Homo sapiens: one gene and its partner. The protein of the gene in region 1 interacts with the protein of each later gene in a biochemical or structural test. Each region holds a gene or a part of one and is shown on either strand. Other genes may lie near its edges.

Region 1 (2,980 bases):
CAAATCAATGTGTGAGAGTAAAGAGAGGAGAGCTATGGGCTACTTCAGACAGGTGGGGAAGGTTAGGGCAGGTGATACCTGAGCCAACCTGCAGTGTGAGGAATCCTCCCTGGGAAGAGCATTCCAGGCAGCAGGAACAGCAAGTGCAAAGGCCCTGAGGAAGGAAGGAGTGTGCTGTGTTCCAGGAAGCGATGGGAGACTGTGGGGTTGGGGTGGAAGGAGGTAAGGTGAAAGATGGGACGGGCTAGGTCACACTCTGTCTATGTGCCAGACACTTGCACAACCAGGGTGAAGAAAACCAGGCATCTACCGATGGTCTTTCACACTTGGCTGTCCTCTCTGTCCCCATGCATCTGCCTTGGTTCAGGACTTCACATCCTGAATGTTGGCCCCGGCTTTCTCAGTGGTCTCCCTCCTTCCTGTCTCTCTCCCTCACATCCAGTCTCTGCATCTATCACAGAGTGACCAGGTGACCCCTGCTTAAATCCCTTGATCCTTAGGATGAAAGGGGAGCTCCTTAGCTTGATGCAACAATTGACAGTCCCCTGAGGGGCCTCACCCCCACCCACCAGTAGGTTGTGATTCAACTGAACCATTTCAGGAGCACCTACTGTATTTAGATACAGTGCTAGGCTCTCTGGGGGAAAAAAAATAGCTAAGGGAACAAAACAGATACAGTCCACCCTTTGTATGGCCTCGAGTCAAATGTGGGAGATGTGAACTGAACAACTAGGTTAATCAATGTTAGGCTGCAGCCGAGACATCTGAGGATGGAGGATAACCATATTCTGAGGCTAATGCAAGAGAGAGCTGAAGCAGTCTGGATCGGGGATGGGGTCAGGGATGGTTTTCCCGAGAAAAAGGTGAGGAATGATCTGCCTCTGGGGTCCGAGGCTTTCCGGATCCAGGGAACAAAATGTGTACTTTCAAGGAAGCAAAGCAGGCTTTGGAGGAACTGGAGGAAGGCCAATGTGACTGGAGCATGGAGAAGCAGAAAGTGTGGCTCAGGAGAAGTCTGGAGAGTGCCGGACCCTGGAAATACAGCTGTGAGCAAAACCAATGTGGTCACTATTTTTATCGTCCTTAGCTGGTGGGGAGACAGACAACACTCAAGTTATATGTAGACACTAAGTGTGCTATGAGCCATAGGCTTTAAAGAAGGAGGGTGGAAGAGGATCACTGATGAGCCAGGGGGCCAGATTCCGGGAAGGGTTTCCAAGGAGCTGACAGATAAATAGACCTACGGGCATTCCAGGCAGTGAGAACAGCATGTACAAGGGCCCTGGGACCAGCATAATCTTGTTGTGTTAAAAGAGTAGAGAGAGAATAAATTTAGTGACAAAGAGGATAGAGATCCCTACACCCACACTGTACAGCAGGTGCATCGAGTCTGGAGCCAGAAAGGCAAATGAACATCACTCCCTGTTCCTTCTTCAGATCTGTGCCCCTGGCAGACATTACTAATCAAGCACTGCACTCTTTCTCATCCAGCCTCACCCTTCTCCTCACAGGCCTCCAGGAAGACATTACCATACTCACAAATCTCTCTCTGTTATTCCAAAATCTTAAATCAACAAGGACAAATATCAATACAAAAAACCTCTCTAAGGCACGGTTTTACACAGTCTACAAGCCTGGCAATGCCTCAGAAAAAAATACAGATTCCTGGACTCCCTCCTGGGAGATTCGATTCCCTAGACTTGGAAGTGATTCCCTGGATCTGTATGTGTGAAAAGCGTTCAGTGGGAGAAACTCTGAGCAGTAGCCGGATTCGGTTCAAAATCACTTCTCTGCCCTAACACACCTAAGGCCTGTATTCAGCTCATGATAACTGGCTCGGGATAGCAGGGCTTGACAAGGGAGAAGACACACCCTGCTAGGGCTGGCTGCTGTGTCACTTTAGAGCTGCACTGTCCAGTATAGCCATTAGCCACCGATAGTGATTTCTTTTTTTTTTTTTTTTTTTTTTGAGACAGAGTCTCGCTCTGTCGCCCAGACTGGAGTGCAGTGGCGCGATCTCGGCTCACTGCAAGCTCCGCCTCCCGGGTTCATGCCATTCTCCCGCCTCAGCCTCCTGAGTAGCTGGGACTACAGGCGCCCGCCACCACGCCCGGCTAATTTTTTGAATTTTTAGTAGAGACGGGGTTTCACCGTGTTAGCCAGGATGGTCTCGATCTCCTGACCTCATGATCCGCCCGCCTCGGCCTCCCAAAGTGCTAGGATTACAGGCGTGAGCCACCGCACCCGGGCTTTTTTTTTTTTTTTTTGAGACAGAGTCTCGCTCTGTCACCCAGGCTAGAGTGCAGTGGCACGTCTTTGGCTCACTGCATCCTCCACCTCCCGGGTTCAAGTGATTCTTCTACCTCAGCCTCCTGAGTGGCTGGGACTACAGGTCCCTGGGACTACCCGCCACCAGGCCCGGGTAATTTTTGTATTTTTAGTAAAGGCAGGGTTTCACCATGTTGATCAGGTTGGTCTCGAACTCTTGACCTCAAATGATCCACCCACTTCAGCCTCCCAAAGTGCTGGGATTACACACGTGAGCCACCGCACCCAGTCGTGTTTTTTTGTTTTTTTTGAGACACAGTCTCACCCTGTCATGCAGGCTGTAATGTGGTGGCATGGTCACGGCTTACTGCAGCCTCAAACTTCTTGGCTCAGCCTCCCAGGTAGCTGGGACCACAGGAGTGTGCCGTGTCCAGCTAGTTTTTAAAATTATTTGTAGAGACAAGGTTTCCCTGTGTTGCCTGGGCTGGTCTCAAACACCTAGGCTTATGCAATCCCAGAGTGCTGGGATTACAGGCGTGAGCCACCATGGCCAGCCAGGACATGGCCTTTTTAAGGACCGAAAGAATCTACCGTGACCCCAAACAGAGAGTGATAGGACGAGCGTTTCCCTAGATCATGGCCCTGTAGGTGTGACAGAGAGCTTGTGCCACAACCCTCTGGGAGTCCAGGAATCCGTTGTCCGGGCTAGGTT
Region 2 (3,053 bases), on another chromosome or scaffold:
GAATTTAGATGCTGGTCATTTTCTGGAGAGGGGTCCCCTCCCCTTACGAACACAGAAACCCAGCCCACATGACTAGCACGCTGAGCTCTGCAGGGACCAGTGCCAGGCACTGGGGGGTGGAAGTGTGGTGACACAGTGAATGGGAGGTGGAGGAGGGTTGCAGCTCCCACCTCAGTTTAGTTTTTAATTCAGGGTTTTCAACCTGTAACACATTAAAGCTGTAATTAGCAATGAGGCTGTATTTTCATTCTGAAGCTTGTAACCTCCCCATTTTAGCACTACAGAATTTTCAAGATTTCAATATCCAACAACTAGATAGATTAGGACCTCTATCCGAGATGCTTTTTCCCTGCCCAACCCTGTGGCCTTCAGGGCTCAGAGCAGCAAAGGCCTGAAGAGTGAGCTCTGGGGGTTGTTGGTGTGGGTTGGGAGAGAGCTGTGTGCAGAAGTCTGGAAACCTGGGTCCTAGTCCCAGCTCTTCCATGGGATCCCCCTGTCACCCTGAGCAAATCAGTTGCTTCCTGGACTTGTGTTACTTCATCTAATTCTCATGTGGATTGGACGACTTCTGCTCCCTTTCCAGTTCTGGCATCTCCCCAGTATGGAAGTCCCGGTGGTCTCCCCAAGAAGTCCCCAAGACAATCTCGCCAAAGGCACCTCCTATCCTGCTGCAGTTTCCCAGCTGCAGCCTAGGCAGGGGATGCACAGCCCAGGCGAGGAAGCCTGGCTTCTCTGTGAGCACATACGTGGGTCCTCGGCAGCTCCCTCCAGGCTGTCTGGGCCTCCAGACCTGCACAGGGTGCTCCTGCCACCTCCCACCTCTCTGAGGGCTGAGGTGAGACTTCTCCTGGGATGACAATTTGCTGAGAGAGTGCAGCTTTTGTGAATTAAACTTGAAGTCCAGGCAGAATTCTAATGCAATAAGCTAAATGTTCTTGCAATTTAAGAAGTGTTCATTCTTTATCCCTGCTTCAGGCTACTGTTTGTGTGTCTGTGTGTGGGAGAGGGAGAGAGAGGGAGAGAGAGAGAGAGCAAGAAAAAGGGAAGTCCCCACCTGGAGCTGGGTGGCACATCTGTTATGGAGAGCCAATGGAAATGGGGTGGAGGGGCAGGCATTGGAACAGATGGATCCTCCCCCTCTCACCACCACCACCACCAAACTCAGAAGCCTCAGTGGCCCAGCTCGGCCTGTCAGTGGCTATCCAGGTCTCACAGTTTCCATGGTAACCCAGTCCTCCAGTTCAGCAGGCTAAGGGGAGGGCAGATGGGGCCTCTGGGCAGAGCACAGGCGTTGTGCTGGGAGCAGCCGCCTCACGAGTTACTGTCATCTGTCCTCTACCGGACATAATAAATGGGAGAAGCTTTCGGGCATGGGGGAAGAGGCTCCCATATGTCCCTCTTCCTTTCTACCCCCTCTCTCCACCCCCTCCCCAGCTGTCTCTTCTCTTCCCATCACAGTTCTTGCTCCCTCTTTCCCCTCCTCTATCCCAGCTCATCCCTCCTCCGCTTAGGAGCCTGCAATGGGAGTCCTCTCCTCCATCGCTCTCAGAATTTCTCTCGTCTCCTCTCCCTTCCCCACCATTGGCCACTGGCCATCCTCTCTGGCTCTGGATTCTCTCTCTGAGGGGCTCACAGAACCTTTAGCTTCTCTTTCTTCATCCCCTTCCACACTCATTGTTGAAGGGAGAGGATGGGGCAGGGAGGGTCCTTCCGGGAGCCCAGCTCTTTTTCTCTCACTCTAAATTTCACCTGTGTCTATCCTTGCCTGCCCTGGAGCTGTAATTCAGACCCACTACTTTTCTTGTTCACTTTTCTCACCTGCATGGCACACAAAGACAGACAGAACCATCCATAGACACCTGAGCACACAACTAGGCCACATATACAGTACCATACCTGGGTCTCAAAATGATACTCCTGGGTTACCTGAGTATACTTAAAAAAACAAAGTTGCACACTGTGGTGATTAAGAGTAGTGCTTTAGGTGGGGCGCAGTGGTTCCTGCCTGTAATCCCAACACTTTGGGAGGCCAAGGAGGAAGTTTGAGACCAGCCTGGGCAACATAGCGAGAACCCTGTCACTACAAAAAAATAAAATAAAATAAATTCAGATGTAATGGCATGCACCTGGAGTCCCACCTACCCAGGAGGCTAAGGTGGAAGGATAACTTGAGCCCAGGAGTTCGGGGATGCAGTGAGCCATAATCGTGCCACTGCATTCCAGCCTGGGTGGCAGAGTGAGACCCTGTTTCAAGTTGCAGTTCTACCAGTTTTTTGACCATGGGTGGGTTAAAATCAAGCCTCACTTGATTGTCAGAAAAATGGTGAAAATAATGGTAACCACCTACTGAGAATAAATGCATTTAAATAAGCACTTAGCATAAAGTTGACACATGCTACGTAATGATATTTGCTGTTGTTGCTGATGTGATTGTTAAGTGTGTGAATCTGTGTGTTCATGCACTGCACATCCCTGAGTCCATGAGTGTGACCCATTAAGGCCATGAACAGACACACACATTGACACACCCGGGAAACCAGACTGTATAGGCCTTAGATGCTCCACTATGTTCCCAATTCACTAGCAGACCTGCTGCCCTCCTTCAGTATCCCCCAGCACCTGCTCTTGGCCCGCCCCACAGCTGTGTGGGGGCTGGGGTTCAGCTCCTGGGGGACTCAGCAGGGCCTCTCTGGAGACAGCTATAAGAAAGCTTCAGCCTGCCCTCCTGACAGCCCGTAATTATCCTCCTATCTCCTGTAATTATTCTCCATGGTGCCTAGACCCCCTGGGGTTGGGAGGTGAGGGAGGGGGCTCCTCAGATCCCACTGGCACATAGCTGGGGTAAGACTGCAGAGACAGCAGCCTGCCTGGGGAGCTCTGTCTCAGATTTTGAAAGGTGCTGGTCCTCATTTCTTATGGTGTGTGTGGGGGTGCTGCAGGCTGCCCAGTGGGCATCTGAGGCATGATGGTTAGAGGCTGAGGTGCTAGGAGCAGTTCTCTTTATTAATGGCTAGAAAGTCAGGATCACCCAAGGAAGTCACTGAGGGGCCACA

What was found. The genes of interacting proteins can lie anywhere in the genome.
Region 2: the proteins of FIZ1 (region 1) and NRL form a complex in vitro, tested with the Homo sapiens proteins (one study listed by BioGRID).

What each region holds. Positions count from the first base shown.
Region 1 is NC_000019.10:55,593,686-55,596,665, reverse strand, and holds part of FIZ1 (flt3-interacting zinc finger protein 1), read left to right. Parts: exon of another isoform or gene 1-770; coding exon of another isoform or gene 771-1,046; intron 1,047-2,980. UniProt on the Homo sapiens protein: May be a transcriptional repressor of NRL function in photoreceptors. Does not repress CRX-mediated transactivation.
Region 2 is NC_000014.9:24,078,017-24,081,069, reverse strand, and holds the end of NRL (neural retina-specific leucine zipper protein), read left to right. Parts: 3' UTR 1-2,408; downstream 2,409-3,053. UniProt on the Homo sapiens protein: Acts as a transcriptional activator which regulates the expression of several rod-specific genes, including RHO and PDE6B. Also functions as a transcriptional coactivator, stimulating transcription mediated by the transcription factor CRX and NR2E3.